3 separate regions of the Homo sapiens genome follow, and all the other regions are reported to be linked to region 2. Evidence: microRNA targets listed by miRTarBase, many of them from high-throughput screens and not tested one by one. Region 2 holds a microRNA gene; each other region holds the end of a gene's coding sequence. Distances are from middle to middle.
The links. Region 2 holds the annotated microRNA hsa-miR-128-3p (UCACAGUGAACCGGUCUCUUU, at 3,577-3,597, opposite strand). A microRNA usually pairs through its seed, bases 2 to 8, with sites in the 3' UTR of a target mRNA and lowers its output. Matches are read on the target gene's strand: a 7mer-m8 pairs with bases 2 to 8, a 7mer-A1 pairs with bases 2 to 7 and ends in A, and an 8mer does both.

Region 1 (7,409 bases), 110 Mb from region 2:
TCCTGAAGAGAGAGTGACTATGTCCTCCCATGGCAGTAGTGACTTGATTAGACTTCTCTCTGATTACTGGAGCTCAGCCCTCACTAGTTTTTCTGAATAGGGAATTTTACTTCTATTAGTGTATTTGATTTTCTATTTTTCCCCTCCCTCCTCTTCTTAAATAATACCCTGGCTCCTTGATAACATTTCACCCTGTATTTTCTGCAGACCTTCTCTGAACTTACATTTCCACCAGGAGGCTTCCTTAGCACTCCACACTTTCACTGTGACTCACCAGCACACTGGATCTGCTCAAATGTTGTTAGCTTTCATAGGAAAAACCATCACCCCTTCCAAGCTGTGAGCCAGTAAAAAAGAATGATGCTACTAGTAAGACAAGCTTCTTGAAAATTATTTCCCTCAGCTTAAAAAAATGGGACTCCTAGGGCTATTTGCCTTATGAAAGCACTTTGTGAACTAAGCTATTATAGAAATGTTAAGTGGTATTAACAATACATTTAGAAGAGGTAAGATCCTGCGTTTATATGTATCATGAGCACTTTCATCCTGCCAGTTTATGATCATAGTTACTTAGTGATTCAAGATCACCTTTTTGAGGAGGCATATCACTGATAGGTGTTTTCACTGTAGACAGCTTATCTCCTGTGCTGCACCCTTCTGATTTGATCCTGACTCGAGGAACCTTGGATGAAGAGGATGAGGAAGCAGACAGCGATACTGATGACATTGACCACAGAGGTGAGAGGTGGCTGAGGTGGCCCGTGGCAACAGAGCATCTGCTTATCCTCACATTGTTTGCCCAGGAGTTTCTTGCTTTAAGCGTGTAGCCAGTAATAGTGGATAAAGGATACAGCACCAGAAAAGAGTTTCCTATATTGAGAGTTCCTGTCCTGCCTACTGGATGGTTAATACTGAGCTGATTACAGGCCTTTCGTTGGTCTTGTGTCTTCTTATCTTTAGGTCCTAACTTGGTTTGAGGGATCCAGGACTTTTGTTTGTTGTTATTAGTATTTTGTTTTAAGAATATGTAAGGGCTGGGTGTGGTGGCTCATGCCTGTAATCCCACTGCTTTGGGAGGCCAAGTCAGGAGGATTGCTTGAGGCCAGGAGTTCTGGACAAGCCTGGGCAACATAGTTAGTCCCACTCTCTACAAAAAAGAAAAAAATAGCTGGGCATGGTTACTCACACCTGTAGTTCAAGCTGTTTGGGAGGCTGAGGTGGGTGGGTTGCTTGAGCCCAGAAGTTTGAGGCTATTATGAGCTATGACTGTGCCACAGAACTCCAGGCTGGGTGACAGAGTAAGACCATCTCAAAAACAAAAAACACAAATAATACATAAGGTTATATGGACTAAAACAGTAAGGATAGAATGGCTCTGGAAACCCAAATTCCACTTGGCATAGTTTTATGGACTGTGCGCAGAATCTAATTGTTACTATTATTTTTTTGAGACAGAGTTTTGCTTCATTGCCCAGGCTGGAGTGCAGTGGCACGATCTCAGCTGACTGCAACCGCTGCCTCCCGGGTTCAAGTGATTCTCCCACTTCAGCCTCCAGAGTAGCTGGGACCACAGGCACATGCCATCACAGCTGGTTAATTTTTTATATTTTTAGTAGAGACGGGGTTTCGCCATGTTGGCCAGGCTGGTCTCGAACTCCTGGCCTCAAGTGATCCGCCCATCTCGGCCTCCCAAAGTGCTGGGATTACAGGCATGAGCCACCATGCCCTGCCAGAATCTGATTCTTGAAACAACCATAGGCCGGGCACGGTGGCTCACGTCTGTAATCCCAGCACTTTGAGAGCCAAGGTGGGCGGATCACCTGAGGCCAGGAGTTCAAGACCAGCCTGACCAACATGGTGAAACCCCATCTCTACTACAAGTACAAAAAATTAGCTGGGCTTGGTGGCAGGCACCTGTAATCCCAGCTACTTGGGAGGCTGAGGCAGGAGGACTGCTTGAACCTGGGAGGCGGAGGCTGCAGTGAACTGAGAGCTCACCATTGCACTCAGGCCTCGGTAACAAGAGTGAAACTTGATCTCAAAAAACAAACAAACAAACAAACAAAAAAACACGAAAACCACCATACGATTTAGGTCTTAGCTATGGCCAAGAGCAAATCTCCTTATTCTTTAGGCTGGGTTTTACATGTAAATTGCCTTATTTAATCAGATTTTTTAAGATGTAGTTTACCAACAGTGAAACTCACTTTTTGAGTATATAGTTTGATGAGCTTTAATAAATATATACTTTCTTGTAACCACAATCACAGTTGAAATGTAGAGCACTTCCCTCACCCCCCAAAACTTCCTCATGCCCCTTTTTTTTCAGTCCCCATCCTGAACACCTAGTGCCTGGCAACCACTGACTGATTTCTGTTCCTTTGATCTTGCCTTTTCCAGAATGCCATAGAAATAGAATCACAGTATTTAGCCTTTTGCATTTGACTTTTTTGACTCAGTAGTGTAGTCTCTCCATGTTGTTGCATGTATCAGTATGTTCTTTTTTATTGCTGAGTGATATTCCATTATTGTGGATGTTCCACAGTTTGTTTATCCATTCCCCAGTGGACTGATATTTGGGTAGATTTTAGCTATTATGAGTAAAGCAACTATAAACGTTTCCAAATAGATCTTTGTGTAGACGTATGTTTTCATTTCTCTTGGTTAAAAATACCTACAAGTGGGACCTTATTTTAGCTACTATGAGGGAGGTATTCTTTCTACTTATAAAGAAACTACATTTTGGGCAGCATGATAGAGCATGCTTCTAGGAGACATTTCCTTTTTGAGGGAAGTGAGTACTTAAGTTTCTTAGAAGTAATGTACTGTTTTCTGATGGATGGGTGACGGGCTCTAATCAGTTTGTCTAATGAAAGAGTTGAAAAAGAATTGCCCTTTTTTCCTTGCAGTTACAGAGGAAAGCCATGAAGAGCCAGCATTCCAGAATTTTATGCAAGAATCGATGGCACAATACTGGAAGAGAAACAATAAATAGGAGACTTTAGCACACTTCACTTGTTTCTAGAAGTCCAGAATTTTGGACCTCCACGTGAAAGAACTGTTCTTACCTCTGAACTGGGGGCTCCCATAAGGGATAATTTTCCTCAGAGTAGCAAAGTTTCTCTTATTAGAGAAATCTTGTGACTCAGATGAAGTCAGGGATAGAAGACCCTTGGACCTGGCAGGTTAATGCTGATTATTCCTTGGCCTTTCCCTTGTATTTATGCAAGGAAGGATATACTGAGCTGATACTCTTCCAAGCCTACAACTTCAAGTTTTATCATTTGAACTCAAGTACTTTTGCTGCTGAGGAATGGAATCAAAAGAACGTAGTCTCCTGGTGACCACCTCAGATCTCTATTATTAGGCTAGATGTATAGCCTCTACTCCCCCAGCTTCTTGCTCTTGACCCTGCACTGTAAGTTGCCCTTCTATTAGCAGCCAAGGAAAAGGGAAACATGAGCTTATCCAGAACGGTGGCAGAGTCTCCTTGGCAATCAACCAACGTTGCTATGAAATATGCCTCACACTGTATAGCTCATTATAGGACGTCAGGTTTGTTGAAAAAAGTGGGCAAGACATGATTAATGAATCAGAATCCTGTTTCATTGGTGACTTGGATAAAGACTTTTTAATTTTAACTTTGTTCTAAGACTGCTTGTCATGATTTCAAATTAGAAAATTATATAATTGCAAACAGCTTCACTTCTCCTGTTCAACAGAGGCTTAAGGCCAGATGTCCAAACTTGTCTCAATAAGGAGGTGATATTTTACTAAAGTTTCCCACGTGCACATACTGACTAAATACAGAGCTAGGCCCAGTTTGTATTGTACTCTGAACTTAATGCAAAGTCTCCTTGGTGATTTTCGCAAAGTCCGTGGATTTGGGTCAGAGGCACATTTCATACATAACAGCCCTTATAAACGTTTGCCCTGCCTCCACATTTTACAGTATCTTAAAACAGTACATTTCTTTCAAAGAATTTTATCTCTATGAGTCAGTACTCCAACTTAGTGGTTCTCACATTGTGGACCAGGAGCATCAGCATCATCTGGGGAATTGTTCAACTTACCTCTTATAACCTATGAACTCAGAAACCCTGGGGGTGGGCTGAGCAGTCTGTTTTAGAAAGCCCTCCATGTGATTCTGATGCATAGTAGCCTATGACATAATTCCAGACCAGGTGAATCTCAAGATACTAATCCTCACATCATTTGCCTTCTCATATTTCCCTCGTCTTGACCATCTGGTGCCTGTTATGCAGTTTAACATTCTGCAGCAATAAAAGTGTTTTATTATAAAGTATTAATTTTAATGTTCTATACTTAGTGGGAACCACTGGTCTCAAAATTTGAAGCTATTCTTTAAGAGGAGAACATTCGCAAAACTCAAGCATACTTGGTTTTTCTCTGTAGTACTTTTGAATGCTTTATCTTCCTTACAGAATAACTTGTCTTCCTTATGCTTCAAGCTCCAAAAGGGTAAGGAAGAAGTCTTAATCATTTTTGTATTCCTTGCACAGGACCTAGCAAATAATTGGTACTCAATGTTTGCTGGATGAATGAACTAAATTCCCATACGGCCACTTTATGGAAACTAACTGCCTAATCGCCACTTTCATTATAAACAAAGGAAAATGAAGATAAGACTGCAACAGAGGCCAGGTGCAGTGGCTCACGCCTGTAATCCCAGCACTTTGGGAGCCCGAGGCGGGCAGATCACTTGAGGTCAGGAGTTTTGAGACCAGCCTGGCCAACACGGTGAAACCTCATCTCTACTAAAAATGCAAAAATTAGCTGGGTGTGGTGGCATGTGCGTGTAATCCCAGCTACTCAGGTGGCTGAGGCAGGAGAATCGCTTGAACCTGGGAGGCAGAGGTTGCAGTGAGTCGAAATTGCACCATTGCACTCCAGCCTGGGTGACAGAGCAAGACTCCATCTCAAAAATAAATAAATAAATAAATAAATTAAAAAAAAGACTGTGACAGAAAGGGTTTAGAGAAATGTGCTAAAGAGTTACAATTGGCAAATTTAAAATTATATGTTAAACTATAACCTCATTTGTATCATATTCATTTATTCTCAATACCTGGGACATTTAAGGCATTCAATAATGAATTAAAGCTGTGCCTTATTTTGGTCTGCATTAAAGGAGTGGTCTAAATTTTACAAGATATATTTTGCATCAGAAAATCAAACTTCAGCAGTTTAACATGCTGGCATCCATCACCAAGGCATGAAGCAACACATTTGCTAATGATTCCTAATCACTACAGTGCTACATCATTTACTTAATAAATACTGATTCAGTACTTATATATACAGATAGTCTGATGGATGAGTAACCACAGTGATGTTGTTCAGGACATGATGTAAAGTTGAAAGGTGCATATTGCTATGTTTTAAAGGCTGCCTTTACAGTAGAAGCAGCAAAGTGTGCTTAATGGACTGCTGTCCTCTGATGACCAAGCAAATGCAACAAATGAAATATGCACAAGGCTGTCCTTGGACAGTACTTGTTTGCTTTGCTCACAAAGGAGAAAAGGAAAGAAACAATTGAAAATATGTATATGGTGAAAGTATGTGAGTCCGAGCAGAAATAACAAAGGCAAAAGGATGAGGAGAGATGGAGTAAGTCTAGAGAAGAAAATAAATGGATGAGATAGAGAGCTGTCTAAGCAAAAAAGGTGTCAGACCTCTGATCTTATAAATAAGACACTTCAAAAGTAGCAAAAACAGTTTTAAGAAGGTGACTAATAGATAAGGTGTGTTGTGTTTAGCTATTTCCTGTTAGGTATTAGTAATGGGTTCCCAATGACCTGAGCCAAAAATGAATCAAGTTAAATGAAAACTGACATCTGATATGAGCATATATTATTAGTCTATTCAAGCACAGTTTTGAAGTTAGCAAACATCTAAATCCTCACATCTCTACAAGGTAGGTCAAAGTATGATTCTTCTCAGTTGTACAAGATAAATGGCTGTATAACATGTCTAGTCATAGTTAAGACAACAATTGGGGACAGTGCTTTGGTCTGATTGCCATGCCAGCATCATATTTTATCTGTGAAGGGTGGCTTGGTTGTGGAAAACTATAAAAACTGGATGCAAAAGTAAAATGCAACCTTGTTTGGTGACGTCCAGTTCCTCTGGAATTAGGAAAAACCACTTGTGTTTAAGAACAGGAGTCAAATCAATTTTTAAGGAAACAGATTCTAATACAAAAACCTTTTCTGTTGGGTCTAGTAGGTCTGGACAAAACATCTCCCTCTTTTCCTTTTATATTTTCCTCATCCTCTTCTTGCAGCGCTGGTTGAAAACAGGGGAGGACCCCATGAGGCTGTCAGTGGAGTGGGAACCATAGCTGCTATCTGAGTCATCAGGGCTCTGAGGAATCCCAGCTTCACTCATGCCTGACATAGGCTCCTCGAAGACATCACTGCCCAGCACACCATGCCCAGAGACATTGCCTTCTTCACTTTCTTGAGGCTCCATTTTCACATGGGCCAGATTCCAAAGAGGAGAAGCATTTACCTCTGCACCTAGAAACAGAGGAAAGATGGACATACACCAAGTGTATATGTGTAGCCAAGTGTAGAACAAAGAGTAAATATATCACTCAGAACCAACTAATATGCTTTGAGCTCAGTTTTCACTCTGATTCTGTACTTGGCTGGAGAATATGGTTGTTACTCTCTGCTTCAAAAAGTTAACCATCCCAAAAAATTACCAGCTCTGATTATCTTCTTTTCCATTTCTTCTACCTTTCTTTCCTCTACCTCACCCACCCCCATTTCCCCTAAACCAGGGAAGTGAAACTAGGCAGGTGGAAAGATCCCCTGTCTCACAGCCCAAAGACATGCACAACCACAGGACTTGTTCAGTTGTTTAGTTTGCCTGTCCTTCCTTCCTTCTTTTATGGGGCCATCTTGTTTTCCTGCCTTTTGTTTGGGTCTCTGGTCATCTCTTGCATTATGAAAAGTTAATGGTCACTACATAATGCTAACAGCAGTTCTCTACCTGGTCTTCTTTGAAGAGACATGGTCCCGAAGTCCGCAACAATTTCTCTTTGGCCCTCGCATCTCTCTATGTATTCTAGCAATGCTGTTCTCTTATGGTTATTCTTCCATAGTGAAAGGCTCTCTGCCCAACACTTTTAAAAGTATGACCTAATTCCATTTAGACCACATTTGAGGATTTGCTATTTGAGTCATTTGTGCATTGATGACAATTTATACTTGTAAACAACTGAGTGTCCAGACTAATTTGCAACCTAACTGACACGTAACCAGTCAGTTGTCCTGGCTCCTAAGGTAATCACAGAGTCTGGAAAAAGAAGCCAGCTACCTCTAACTGGGAAGCCCTATTTCTTTTTTTTTGAGACGGAGTCTTGCTCTGTTGCCCAGGCT
Region 2 (7,409 bases):
ACAAAAGACAATTGGGAAGGAGAAGAACTGGCTCAAATAGTGACACTATTTCAGGTTCCACATCCCACAGTTCTGTCTCTCAGCCTGAGTATTTCCAAGTGAATCTCCAATGTTCCCTTTGGGCTTTAGTTTTGCTGTTTTGCCTCGGAGGCTGCTTTTGCTCAAAAAGTCTGTTGCCACATTCCAGATGAGTCTATACAAGATTAGTCTAGCAGAGTTTTCATAGATACTGGCTGTCTTCTCCACAAAGTCAGGCTGCTTTGCCAAGAAGTCAGACTTTACTCAGCAGGGCAGTGCCAGCTTTAACCTGGACACATTTTGTGCAAGGAGAGCTGCTACGTTTTATGGGCGAAGTCTTGAAGTTCTGTGAAGCAATGACTTTTTTCCATCCACTGAGTAGCATTTCATTCATTTTTACATCCAAGGCAGGAAAATTCACCAGGTTTAAACTACACTGGGTAGAAAGCCATCAGGGTCTGAAGAACTGTTCTAAACTAACACAACTAAAATTGTCATTTAACATTTGATGCTCAGAATGATCGGTACCCCAGAAGGGAAATTCGACTGGCATTAGGACAGGAATATGAATGTTTTTTCCAGAAATCATGATGAAATGTTTTATCACTCATTCTAATAATTATAACATACAACACAGCAACTGGCTAAAAAGTATATAATTTTGAATTATATTCTCTAAAGAGCAGAACATTAAAGATTACTAAAAGATTATTGGTCTTTTTCTAATGCAGTGCTTAGCAGAAAAGTACTCAACAGGCATTAACAGGCTAACATTTGTTCCAATGAAAAAGAAAATAAAACTGGGATCTATGTTGGTTAAAATTACTATAATCACAAGCAAAACTAGAAATACTCAGCTGGAAAGCACTAAAAACAAAAAAGCCCACATCATTCTCCTAATCCAATCAAAGATAAGAACCTTACTCTTGCCTATGTAAGACAAAATCATTAATAAAATAATTGTTAACATAAAATAAAGGATCATTTAATTACAGGTATGCCTCACATTATGTACATTTGCTTAATAAAATTTACATCTTGAACTGTTCAAGTTGCTCATGAATTCCTCTGAACTTTTGTTTAAACAAAGAAATTTCAGACTGCTGGGCATGAACCGTTACAGAGTGACACCTAGAGAAGTGGCATTGTAGGTTAGGTTCCTTGTCTAATTATTCAGACAAAAGCAAGAGTGGGTACAGAGTTCTCATAGTGTCAAAAGTATAGTTTGAAGACTGCCAAGTTTGAGAAAGAAAAATCCAATGATCTGGAAAAGAGGGAGAAGGCTGAGGATTAGGAAGGAGAAGTAGATTTCTAGAGAATGAAAAGTATCAACAGGTTTCAAAAATGCTACAAGAAGAGTATTTCCAGTATCCCGACTCCAACTTGGCTACCACATAAATTATTCTTTCTTCACTAAAAAGTATATTTTAGTATATTAGAATTAAAAAAAATTCTTCCTGTGATACATCTGAATTTAATCTGGAAAGTAGAGGAAAACACTATATCTTTTATAGGAATTTACGTCAATATTGTGGGAAAGCCTCTATTTTGTAAAGTAAGAAATGCCAATAGTAAGTGATACCAAACAACAAAATAAATATCCAGATCTCAACATAGATTTTTTTTTTTAAAACACTACCATTCTGTTTTGTTAAAGGACTGCACTGTTGCAATATTATCCCATTTCTTTCAGCACTTTCAGAGGAAAGCACAATCAATTCTGCAAGCTAAGAGAACTAGGACAATATAAACTGATGGTTCAGGAACTTCCCTGGAGGGCTCCACAGAATGTTCTATTTTTAACTCTCACTTTAACCAAGAAGAGAGCAGGAAGGAAATGCAGTGCTCAGCACAAAAGTATTGAACAGGCATTAACAGGCTGATTTTATTTTATATAGGTGATCTGAACTAGCATTTGTTCTAAAGGAAAGCATTCTTAATAACACAGAAATAATCAGAAAAATTACAAAAAGTATTAAAGAAATGCTTAGAATACCCATGAATCTAAGGTTATTTCACTTAATAGTACCTATTAATTTTTTTTCCAGACTGTGCTTGTACAATAGAAGCACTGTGAAGGTAGTTTTCTTTTTTTTTTTTTTTAAAGATGAGCCATTTTACTAAAGCCAAATTTATTTGTAACTAGGCATCTACAAGACCAAATTGTTAAAACCTCAAGCTTATAATCTTGGGCTTCTGTCTGTGGCACTATTTTAGTAGGTGGGCAAGTTCAACTAAAGCCAGCCCCATGGGTGTATTTGGAAGGAGATGCAATTGCCATCACACTTGATTATCCCTTCTCATCTCTCATCCCCTCTTCTCTCACTCCTGTGCCTGAAATAAACATATACATATACAAAAACCAATTCTAACAAAAACAGTCACACAGAGTTTATTGCTCACAGCTATTTAAAGAACTATTCCATGGAAGAGTCTATACAACTCAAGGAAATCTGTGGGTACTTACCAGATATATTTGGCTCCAGATTTCAGTGGCGGCAGGTTAATGGAGAAGGGAAAAGGGAAATAGGTGGATTTGTAGGTATTATACAATGTCTGAATCTATGCTGAATCACACAATACATACTAAGAAATGCTCACAGAAATCAATGAAAAAACAAGAATAGCCAGAGCCACTACCTAGTAATTTACAAATACAAAATTCCTATTACTTGGATTGAAAGTTGTCAGTAAAGAAATTGACTTTGTGCCTTGAGTCCCTATTTGACATAGCCGACTCTCCTATCAATAAGCCCCCTCACCTGCTTACCCAGTAGTGCTGACTTTTCTTTGCTCGCCTTTTACACCCTAGTTACTCTTAAATTTGTGCCTTCAAATTCTGTCAACAATATGCACACATTGAAGACTGTTTATCCTAACAAGTTTCTTCCATAGTGTCGTTCATCAGGATCCTACCATAGTCTGCTGGTAACAAAGCTTAATCAACTTGGAACCATATGATTCTGGGTTATCTGGAAAGCTAAGACTAAAGATATAATACATTGATAATCTTTGAAGTTATCAAATGGTTGCAAAACTAAAAGTATAGTTTCACAGAATCATTTTGCTTTCCACAGGTATGCAACAACATCATCGTTTGGAAAAAAAAATTAAATTATATCGTTGGTAAGAACCGAGACCAAGTAGCTTCAAATGCATTTAGGTGTATTAGGTCCGTTTGATGTCATGCTTTCATATATAACAATATCCCTAAAAAGTTGTGTAGCAATAGGGAGAGACATATTTGACTTCTGCTAATGAGTTTGGTATGCTTAAAACATTAAGCTTTTTAGATAAGCTCAAAACCAAACTGAATTTGTCATCCAAATCTACTTTGGAAAAGAAATAAGCAATAGCTTTCACAAATTTTTAACAGGTAAATTATATTAGGCCAAAGATGTCACTTAAATTCTAATCCCTATTTCTGAGTATGATGCATGATTTAAAGGTATTACAATTAATGAAAAATATAAACAAATGTTAACACCTTCATACAGCATTAAAAAAAGCAAAAAAGCAGTGGAAACCTGAGTAAAAAGAAGCCAGGAAGCAGCTGAAAAAGAGACCGGTTCACTGTGAGAAATGTAAACCTCTCAGACAGTGCTACGGCCCCGAATCCAACAGCTCAGGAACAAGGCCAATTATTGCAAAATATTAAATGTATATGGTGAAGCTACAAACTTGTCAAGAGTCATAAGAATAATAAAAGCTACACAGAAAACAGCTAGGGCTTTGTAAACCTAAAATCTTCACTATAATTACTACCTGCAGAAAGTTTCTTTATACTATACCACACTCCTTATATGCAGTGTACTTCACAGTATTCAAAGCATACATTTTATGATAAAGGTTTAAAGTAATAAATCTTTATTAGTGAAACTGGTAAGTAATCTGATCTTTTGAAATAGTTGCTTTCATTGACTCCAGTTATTGACAGTTGGTTGCCAAGCTGTTACAAACCAATTCTCTATTATTCTACCTTTTAGAACTAGAAATGACTCACATGAGACACAAAGAATTATGGAGTTTTACAGTACACAGAGGCTTCAACAGACAACACAGTAAAAATTCCATACTTTGCAAATGAGTCCAACTGAAACTCAGTGGCTTTAAGTGATATGCCTAACACCAGTTACAAATGACTAAGGGCCATCAGGATTCTGACTTTTATTTTGTTGTTCTTTCCCATTATACAGTGCATTGTTCAGAAAGTCTTATGTGTGTAGCCAGGGTTTCTTCTGTTTCTGTTGACAGGGGTTTACTCAACCTTGTTTTGAATGAACAGTTCAGTAGTTTCACATTCATAACAAAAGACTAGTACATTCATTTCCCCAGCAGTAATGTTAGTCCTGATTTCAGTTGTGGTCCACTGGGACACATGGATAAAAGACCTAGAGCATTTTATCCTTGAGATATTTCCCCATCCTCCTCCCTATCCACCAAAGGAAAAATAATGAAAGATCCTGTATTTCTACTGCCCATACCCTATCTGGTCTAAAAATACTTTGCTCAGTTGGGCTTGTTAATTTAGGGCAAAATTTCTTTAAGTTCAAATACAAACTTTTAAACATTACTTGTGCCACAGTGAAAAAAAATTGCTCCAAGTCTACTAGTGTTTTCATTATTTGGTTGAATAATTAGTTTCACCCTTTTATGTAATTAAAAAAAAACATGCTTCTTGACACTGTGGGGTAAGCAAGTGTTGTTTGACAAGAAATACAAATATAAGAGATATGAAAAAGTATTTCTCATTTTTAATCAGATTGGGATAGTAGAATGTAGAGAGGTAAGAAAATAAAAACCAAAAGGAAACCCAGAAGTATGTTTCCATATAAAAATGTAAATTATGAGACAGTAATTGCTATATACCTGTAAAAAAACTCAAAAACAATAAACTATCATGTTAATTTCCCAGTACATTTTACTTTTCTACACTAGGGCACATACAAACATAAATGCACACTTTTCTGTTAAGTTTTTTTTTTTTTTTTTTGAGACAGTCTCACTCTGTTGCCCAGGCTGGAGTGCAGTGGCGCCATCTCAGCTCACTGGAACCTCCGCCTCCTAGGTTCAAACGATTCTCCTGCCTCAGCCTCCCGAGTAGCTGGTATTACAGGTGTGCGCCACCATGCCCGGCTAATTTTTTTTGTGTATTTTTAAAGTAGACACAGGGTTTCACAATGTTGGCCAGGCTGGTCTGAAATTCCTGACCTCAGGTGATCCACCCGCCTTGGCCTCCCAGAGTGGTGGGATTACAGGTGTGAGCCACCGTGCCTGGCCTTCTGCAAGTTTTGACATAAAAATTAATGATGAGCTAACTATAAAAAAGTCTTTAGATTATAACTTTTAAAAAAGAGTTCAAATCCCCACTAATTCTATGAAAAGGTTCAATACAATTACCAACACAACAGTTGGCACTGGCCCTGCTGAACTTTTCTTTAAAGGAAAATTTTCTATGATACTTATTAGCATAACAAAATTCCTTTCTCTTTTAGATAAGAATGCTTTGAGGATTTATTCCTTTTATTCTTCAAACTGAATGAGTCAACTAACTTAAGCTGTAAGTTAAGAGGATACTATATAAAACAGCTGAAAGGACAAGTCTAGCTTTTATAAAGTGTTATATTATGACTGACTCATAAGAGTCAAACACAATGTCAAACATTTTTCAAAGACATGATTCTCTTTTTTGTGCCTGTAGCACTATCCAGATGCAACCTGATTTATTGTTTCCTCCTTCTCATCATAACTAGCATCAGAGAAAACCCCATAGTTAAAAATATGACCAATGATAAACACATGCTATCTGTCACATAGATGTTTTCACCTCCAATCAGGCATATTTAGTTGAATTCTATTAAGTGTCATATTTTTTTTTTTTTTTTTTTTTGGCAGAGAGGCATATATACTAGCACACTAGTCCCAACCTGTGATTGAAAGTGATTTTATAGGCAGTTTGACCATGGACAGGGATAAAAATTTTGCCATGTTGAAGAACAAAATTAGTAAGCTAACACAAACACAGAACAAAGGATTTTTGCTTGCCTTATTAATAGAGTGTACTAATGAATTAAGTTAATTAGTCACACGCAAGGATATTTAAATGAGTAGCATGAAGGTACATTTCTTTATTATGGCATCAGCTACAGTCTGTGTTATAATTTTGGAAGAAAAAAATCAAGAAAAAACAATATGAAAATTCTATTACTTGAGGTCCAGAAAAATTCAGAAAATTGTTTCTGAATAAAACACCAGTGTATATAAAGCTAATGAGCAGTACCACAACCAATGTTCCCACGAATAGAGAATAACTTTTGATACCTTTTGAAATTATATCATATACTAGTTTACATTATTTGACGTGGACTGTGTTATTAAATTTTAGGTAGCTTGGAACTAAAATTCTAACTTGGCTAAAATGACCAATGTTTGTATTCAATGTTCTTTGGAAGAACATTTGTCACATGTACAATACAAGGCTAGTAACATACTAAAAAGGGGAGAACCTGTAAACTAACAACGAGACAACTCCTAAGGGTAACAGATTAAGGACCTGGAAGTTATCCTGCATGGCTATGCTAAGCATGAACTATATCTAGCACAGAAAGTTAGTGAATCATGATCACTGAAGACTGCAACAATAAAGAGAAGTATGACTACTATTCATCAGATGGGCCAGTGCAGAGATGCTTCTCCTAAACTGGTGGTAACCCTGACGAGTTTCACACAATATCAAGAGCAGTAAACAGCCTCAGTGGAGGTGGAGGTTATGGGTTCCTCAGTGAGTCACACTCACATAGTCAGGGAGCCTCCAATAGTGATAAGCAGTTAAGAAAGCTCTAAAGAAACCAATGATAAAATTCCACTTCAACTCCTAGAGTTATAAAAGGCTGAATAAATACCTTATTAAACATCTGGGAAGTACACATCTAGGTGAGAAGCATACAGAGAAATGAGTTCATTAAAAAATCAATAAGATAGTTTTATACACTGAGATCAAAATTGTTTTCACTGAATGCTTGAAGAAAATCTGCAAAGTGCTAAAACAAAAACAATGCTGAGTTTTAATAAATTTCATTTAAGTGGCCTTAGATTGTATTTGGTTTAAAAATACTTTTCACTATCAATCAATAAACTGAAAAGCAAAACACAGAAAATATGCTAAGTACATCATTTCTTTTAAAGGCATGCCTACTAAGAGATCAAAATATCATCCCTAGACTAGGGTTCTCAATCCAAGTTAGGTGGTTTTGATCTTTGCTTCTGGTTAGCCATTCATAAGTCACCTTGCCTCGCCTTGCCTCTCTTTTGCTGTTACCATAGGTGATTTATCAGGCTGCAAAGACAGTTTCAATCTCAATGGCAGTAAGAGATGGCAGCCACTTAACAAA
Region 3 (7,409 bases), not on the chromosome of region 2:
TGTGATATAAATGTAACACAGTAGTGAACTGAGTGTTCTTCACAATCTATTCCTAGCTGTCTATAAAACTAAGGATGTGACACCACTAACTTCTCAAGGGCAGTGGGGGGCAGGGAGTGATGGGCGTGACCGTGAGGCTGCCAGCGCTGTGTGTGTGGCTGCGCCTCCGAAACACCCTTTCCTCAGGTGGCCGAGCTGCGCCTGGGGAAGGCCCCCACTGAGGCTGTGCCCGAGGAACATGCCGTGTCCACCCCTTGGGACTTGGACGTCCTCTCAGGCCATCCTACATTACTGGAGTCTCCAATTCTTAAGTATTCTGTGACTCAGTGTTTCCTTACCAATCTGACAAAAATAGGTGCTGTAAAAAACAGCTGCATCTAAGTTCTGCAGCCTCCACGGAATTCCAGGATATGACCAAAGGGCTGGGGAATCCAAACAGCTCCAGTGCTCCACAGAGCCCTGCCCAGTGAGTGGTCTTGAAGGTTCTCAGAAACTGCACATTTAGACCCTGATCCCAGAACTGTGCCTTCAACCAAGTCTCCCTAGGATAGCGTTAAATTACTGTGCAGAAGTCTGGTCAAGATGGCACCATCATTTTCTTAATTTTCCTGATTTTCCTTAAGGACTCTGGCTCTACCAAGAAGAGGCAATAGAGAATTCTTTCAATGAAACAATGTATGGATACAGGGCTATCGTTATTTTGGATATTGTACACTTTAAAACCATCTGTTAGATGACCAAACGTTTTACAAAGATGCAGCAGTCATTAAAAACATTTCCTTATAATGCTGGGCGGGCTTCAACGGTGCAGTCAACCCTGTTCTCCCCATCTTAAAAAGGGGTGTCTAAGATTTTTTTAAAAACCCATACAAACTCTGTCACAAAAATCCCTGCAGTAACTTCTCAGTAATATTTACATTGCTTGCTCTAAATAATATACAGGTTATTTTGAAGAAAATAAACACAGCTGCTTTTAAATACAGAGAAATTGCAAGCTACACCAAGCATGCAGTAGCTTAAGTATTCACAAAGTACTGCATCCGAACACCTAAGGACTCGGACCCAAGACGTGTTCAGACAGAAACTTGCCCCATCTCTAGGGATGATCTAGTGTTGAGCTACTGACTCCCCTACCCTGCCAAGAGCCTTTTCTTTTGTTGAAGGATTTCAGAGAAGGGAGATGTCTTCCCTTTACAGAGAAGCAAGAATACTTGAAGCTCACAGTTCTGAAAAGGGCAAAAGAATGAACAGGGTCTTGTCCCTGGCAGACAAAATTTGAGATAACTGATAATGTTCCTTTCCATGCTGGGTTTATGCCAGGCTTTCCTTTTAAAGAGCCTACAGCACGGTATTACTAGCCTTCAGCTCAGGCTGGTTCTTAACTGCCCATCAGCTGTGGACACATGCCCTTGCTGAAAGCTGTTTGGCCCAAATGTGTAAACACAAGAACTGTACAAAGGTAAAACGAAGAGCCCCCTCTAAGGGGTGGCTGCAGAACAACCTGCCGTAGCTGCTGTGCAAGGAAGAACGGCCATCTCAGAACGTTCTGTTGCTTGGCATTGAGAACAGTGGTGGCCTTCACCTTTCGATGTGAAGATGACCGTTCACTGGATGAAAAATCTACTGAGTTTACATCTTTAAAGTGGGTGGTGGCATGGAGAAGCCAGGGGAAGGAAGAAGTGTGCTTGTATATGGCACCTCCAAGCCTGAAGTCCGTGGAAAACCCACGTTCAGCTGCTATTACCTACTGGAGACGCTCGCGCTGAGCGGGCTAGGAACCTCTCTAGAGAAGAATGCTGGAGGGCAGGAAAGCCCAGGAAGGTGAAAGGTGCGAAAACAGTGGGTAGATACCTTAATTCTAAGGAACTTTTTAATAAGCAAGTTCCCAGCAGCTTTCTTCCCAAGTCCTTTTAGAAAGTGGGCTCTTTTGCCAGCACTGAGAACCTTCGCTCACTTCAGCTGAAAGGAGAAAACACAGGGCTGATCCCAGCTTGCAGGGAAGGGGAAACGAAACGTTGTCTCTGGCCTGTGTCACCTCTTAGTGCTCCAACAGGGACCTTAGGGCAAGTTACAACTTGTTTAGAAAGCAAATTCCTTGTACAACAGACCTATGGCTCCCCTAGCCAGGACTTTTATCTCATGCCCTAAAACGAATGAAGTTCCCAGGAAAGTGAAGCTTCTCATCAACATGACAAATTTTCTTTAAAATTTCAACATCAAATTCCTTTGAAGTATAATATCATACATTTCCATTCTTTATAGAACTTTGACAATACTTAATTTCTTTCTCCCTTAGTGACAAAGGGGTCACAGTTTTTTTTTTTTACCGTATCTTATAGGCCAGGCGTGGTGGCTCACGCCTGTAATCCCAGCACTTTGGGAGGCCGAGACAGGCGGATCACGAGGTCAGGAAATCGAGACCATCCTGACCAACATGGTGAAACCCCGTCTCTACTAAAAATACAAAAAAATTAGCCAGGCGTGGCGGCAGACACCTGTAGTCCCAGCTACTCGGGAGGCTGAGGCAGGAGAATGGCATGAACCTGGGAGGCAGAGGTTGCAGTGAGCCGAGATCATGCCACTACACTCCAGCCTGGACAACAGAGCGAGACTCTGTCTTGAAAACAAAAAACAAAAAACAACCCCCCTCCACCCAAAAAAACCCCCACTATATCTTATAAAGGAAAGTCTTATAAATTCCAAGCTTCTTTAGGACCATGTTAGGCAAACTCTTCTTTTCAGGAAAAGTTAATGTTGATGTGTCACATTCTTTTCTAAGTGCGAACTGTCTTAGAACTTACCCAAGTCAGTGAATGAGTAGCTGGGAGAAAGGGGTATGTGGCCAGCCATTAAAGTCACCCAACATACAAAGGAGCAGGGGCCAGCAGAGCTTCCCCTACACCCCAAATTAGGCTGCAGGTCATATGCAAAACCTAGGAGGCCAAACAGGATTACTTGTTTGTGTAGGGACCTGGCTGCCAACAGGGACCCCACACAGGGTGGCCTTGGCCTCCAGGGCCCTGCAACACCTAGCGGGCTCTGCTGTGTCCCAGCTCCGTGGCACCCGGCAGCCTCCCAGGAGACAGCCAGGCAGGAGTGATGATCAGGATTGTGTTCAGTTTTCAGCATGTTTCCATGTACCCAAAAGTTAAGAGTCCCATCTACCTCTATAGTAAAACAAAATGATAGTAAATACATTCCATAAAAATGTTTTTCAAGCCATCAGTTTTGTTTCCGGCCTTATCTGTCAGTATTCCTTTCAGGCACATTCTGAGATTCACAACTGTGTTCTTTAAACAGCCAAAATTCCCTCTTCTCCAGCATGAGCTGGAGGGTCAAGGGGTGATGGGAGCTGGTGGCTGCTGCAGAAACAGGTTCTTGCTGGGCCTTCCAACTCACTAAGCAGGCTGTGGGGCCTTGCTCTCCATGCTCTTCTGCCTTCATACTTGCTGAATCCGAAGGCAAGATCCTCTCCGATGTTACCTCTTGTTCAATAAACCTGCAAATTCGCGATACTGCCACCTCTAGTCGCCCTGGGATGTCCACTGCATCACCCACTTAGCACAGGCCCATTATGACTCCCTGAAGCACAGGCTTCCAGCTCAGAGGGCAGCGCACTGTCTCCACCCCTGCCCAATGATCCACTCAGACCCGGGAGGCTGTGGACAGCGCGTCCTCTGAAATGCTGGTCTCCACACCTGCCTGGGGCTGGGGCACCATGGGTGGATAAAGAAACTGACCAGCAGAAAGTGACTATTCTGCACGTGCAGGCGTGCACACAAGGTAATTACCCACAAGCCTGCAGAAACTCACACGAGCACAACTGCCTCGCTTTCCCATTCATATGTGTGGCACAGCTTACTGGCTGGTGCTAGCATACTACACATAAATACATTTATAGGAAAATAATTAAAATGCTGAAGTCTATCTATTTGAACTTCTTCCTCATCGGTAAAGCTGGGAAAGCTCACTACTGTGTAGCTGGTGCCAAGGAGCAGCCTGAGACCCCGCCTGCAGCTGTCCCTAAGACTTTCCTCTCCCCATACAGAAACCAGTTCTACTTCTTCACTGTTCTTCTTTCTTCCCTCTGGAATTCAGGGGTTAAATCCCTTCCAGGGTATTTGGATGCCTGCAGGAAGGAAACTGGAGAGAGGGCCCAGCCCTGTGCAGCACAAGGCTCCCTGCTCAGTGTGGCACCAGTTGGGCAGCCGTCAACATCTGTGCCAGTGTTGCCACCTGGGCAAGTCTCTGTTCCTGGGGCATGTCCAGGTGCAACATGAAGAACATCGTCATCCTTTCTCGCCTGGTTCACTCCATCGCAGGATGGAGCCCACCAGCAGGGAACCCAGACTTCCTTGACCCAGATGGTGGCTGTCCCTGTATGAGGGCTCTTCAGAAACGCCAGGACAGGCCCAGGGCATTTTCAGGAGCTCTTAGCAAAGCAGCCTCAGTCCGTTTCCTGGCAATACCCTACACTAAACCAGCCTCTGGGGAGAGACCTGTGGCAGGGAGGAATGCAGACGCCCTGCTGGCCTGTCTCTGACCCCTCACATGCTGCACTCATATTAATTTTCCAGGATTCCTGAAGTCCAGCCTCAAGGGATATGTGACAGAAAAAAGGGAATCAAATGCTCTTTTGTCCTATGGGCAAACTTGCTTTAATTTAAAGCACTGTGAGGGCTGAAGGCAGATGATCCTGTCTCCAAGCATGGACTCTGGCCAGAACCCCCTGGAGGGCAGAAGGCAGGGAGCTGTCTGCAGAAGGGCCAGTGGGGTCCACCCCCAGGGGCAGCAGGGATGGTCACGAAGGAAACCATGCCAGGAAGGGCAGGTGGTGGACCTCAGAGAACGGCACAAAATCGTAGCACCCAGACACGAGGCAAAAACTCCTATCTGGTCAGATCCTGATGCACTCCAGGTCCCTGTCTGTCCTGGAGCATTCGTGTGACCCAGCAGTGTCCTGGAGACAACAATGAGGCTGTGGGGGACAGCGGGGTCCCGAATGTTCCTTCTGTATATTCCCATTGACACAGAAAGGTCATAGTGCATTTCTCAAAGCACTGCCAATCTAAATGGTCAGGGGGGGTCTGATAAGTATATCTATATCTGATATGGGGCCTTGCTTTGTCACCCAGGCTGGAGTGCAGTGACACGATCATGACTGATTGCAGCCTCGACCTCCCGGGCTCAAGCAATCCTACTACCTCAGCCTCCTGAGTAGCTGGGACTACAGCTACGCAACTGTGCCACCTCAGAGAAGTAGATTTTTAAACAAACCCAATTTTCTCTTGCTGTTAACAACACTGAAGACTAGTAGCAGAGGAGTGAAAGTGTGGGTTAAGAGCCTTAAAAACTTGTGGAAAGGGCTCGATGCCAGTGGAGAGCACTTAGTTATTTCAGTGAGAAGAGAGCACCTAAACCTGGGTCTGAAAACACATGAAAACTCCAGGCCTTGCTCCCGGCCCTTCTGCACATTGGGGGCGGGGCCAGAGCTCCACTGATGGCCTTGCTCATGACTTCATCTAGAAACTGAGCAACAGGATTTCTAGATTTCAACGCCCAAAGCATCCACCCACCCACAGAGACCATCACACCAACACAAGCATGAATACAAAGTGAAAGCATGTTCTTGGCATGAAAACCATCTACTCACACCCCACCTTGCTCCTAAAGTAGCAGAACCTGTTCCACCAGCCAGGGGTTTATACTCCCTATCTTAATGGGATTAATGGTTTTCATGGGGCCATAATAGACTCCAATTTAAGAGATTTTCAAGAATTGCCATAGAATGTTTTGTGGTGGTTAAAAAGGTCTTCCTCAAACTGTTAGAAAAAGCAAAATTGTTAGTATAGGTTTACTTTAACCAGGCTCTTTTAAAGATAAATGCTGCAAGATAGGTTTTCAGAGCTCAGATTAATTAAATGAGAGTTAAGATCGGAGTCTCAATAAACACTAATGTGCTGTTCTCATCAGATTCTGACATCCTCTGTACTTTCTTCTTGACTTAACAGGGGTCTCCTCTCAACCTTTTCCAAAGCAATGTGACGGTTTCTTTTCCAAAAGGTAAAAAAAAAACCCAAACCCCCAAACCTTCCCCCATTTTGAATGATTCCTGGGGGGAATTCATTTGTTTTTTGCAATCAGAGTCTGAAACCTGGGCTGCAGGTCAACAATCTCGAGCAGTTATGAAAAGACCAGGGTTACTGGAGACCAAGAAAGGAACGAGCGGAGGAAGGAAGGAAGGAAGGAAGGAGAGGGGCCGGGGATTTTGTGCAAGATTTAATAAAAAACAAACAAAAATAGGAATGGTTGCTTTCAACATTTTCCAGGTTGTGAAAGGTTTGCCACGACTCTCAGGGGTGTGGTTCTAAGCTGCATCAGTGGAACAAATACAAAATGCTGTCCTCCTCCTGGGCTGGAAGGCAGTGCACTTTCTCCTCTTAACAGCCAGACTAGCGGGTGAGGAGTCAGTGCTGTGACCCAGGCCAAGCTGGAGTGTCCGCATAGCTTTTTCTCTGACCAGTGGGGATTCCATCTACCTTGAGGCGTGCTGGCTGGGCCCCGTTTCCACACCAGCACATGGTGAGACAGGGTAGCTTATCAACAGGCTGCTGGGCCTTAATACTGACAGTGAGTGTGGCGGGTCACAGCCAGGAAAGGACTAACACAGATGCCCTCCCAGCCCCCACTGCTGGCCTAATTTTAGAATACCACGGAAAAAAGCTTTGATGAAGACAACAGGAAGTCAACACAGCAGAGAGTGGTGTGGACAACCCAGAAGCCAGCCTCACGCATTCCATGCCCACAGTTAACGATGACAACAACAGCAATAATAATAATAATAATAAAACAAAGGTACAGGTGAAAAGCAGCGCTTGGGGTGTGCTGCTGCAAGCTGGGGAAGGCGCGTGCTCAACTTGGATGGGACACACCTAGTCTTTCTTCAAGTCCCTGGATTCAAAGAGCTTCAACCGTTCTTGCACCGTCAGGCCTTCCTTCAGACTCTGGGTAGAGACAGAGCAGGAGGAGAAAATAAACACACCGTTAGACCCCCTGCACTGGACCGGACCGGACCAGACCGGACCGCTGGTGGAGCCGGCATCAGTCAGAGAGCCGGGTGCAGGTGCGGTTAGTGGGCATGCCAGGAGGAGAGTCCCCGGGAAATGCTGTTATTGGAGGATGTTTTCCCCTTCACAAAATTACTTGGATGAAAAAGGAAAAAAAAATCAGAGAGACAAGACCATGTGTTTAAGCAGCTAAATTCTGAGCTTAGGGCTCTTTAGAGAAGCAGTGATCAAACGAATCCAGCCAGGGAAAACAGTGCAATGAGCAAGGAGACTGCCCATCCCCGTGTCTTGTCTTGTGAATGGATTTGTCCACATCCAGCTCCAGAGATTCTTCACCTGACA

Region 1: miRTarBase lists SUPT7L as a target of hsa-miR-128-3p. Seed matches in the 3' UTR shown: 7mer-m8 at 5,347-5,353.
Region 3: miRTarBase lists MPRIP as a target of hsa-miR-128-3p. Seed matches in the 3' UTR shown: 7mer-A1 at 2,308-2,314 and 7mer-A1 at 1,219-1,225.

What each region holds. Positions count from the first base shown.
Region 1 is chr2:27,647,206-27,654,614 of GRCh38, forward strand. SUPT7L (SPT7 like, STAGA complex subunit gamma) reads right to left here. Exons shown (of 6, transcript NM_014860.3): 6 at 3,604-6,542. The coding sequence ends at 6,280. GPN1 (GPN-loop GTPase 1) reads left to right here. Exons shown (of 14, transcript NM_007266.4): 13 at 631-738; 14 at 2,910-4,306. The coding sequence ends at 2,995. Among named protein-coding and RNA genes, the nearest start is that of SUPT7L, 13 kb to the right of the region's middle. RefSeq lists an enhancer at 5,402-6,601.
Region 2 is chr2:135,661,634-135,669,042 of GRCh38, reverse strand. It overlaps MIR128-1 (microRNA 128-1), which reads right to left and starts at 3,646; the gene lies at 3,565-3,646. All of the region lies in intron 19 of R3HDM1 (R3H domain containing 1), which reads right to left. LOC124907893 (a long non-coding RNA gene) reads right to left here. Exons shown (of 2, transcript XR_007087245.1): 1 at 2,486-7,409; 2 at 1-1,282. RefSeq lists an enhancer at 4,229-4,328.
Region 3 is chr17:17,184,418-17,191,826 of GRCh38, reverse strand. MPRIP (myosin phosphatase Rho interacting protein) reads right to left here. Exons shown (of 24, transcript NM_001364716.4): 24 at 1-7,004. The coding sequence ends at 6,933. Among named protein-coding and RNA genes, the nearest start is that of PLD6, 18 kb to the left of the region's middle. RefSeq lists enhancers at 1-28, 29-696, 5,439-5,508, 5,539-5,738, 6,526-7,026.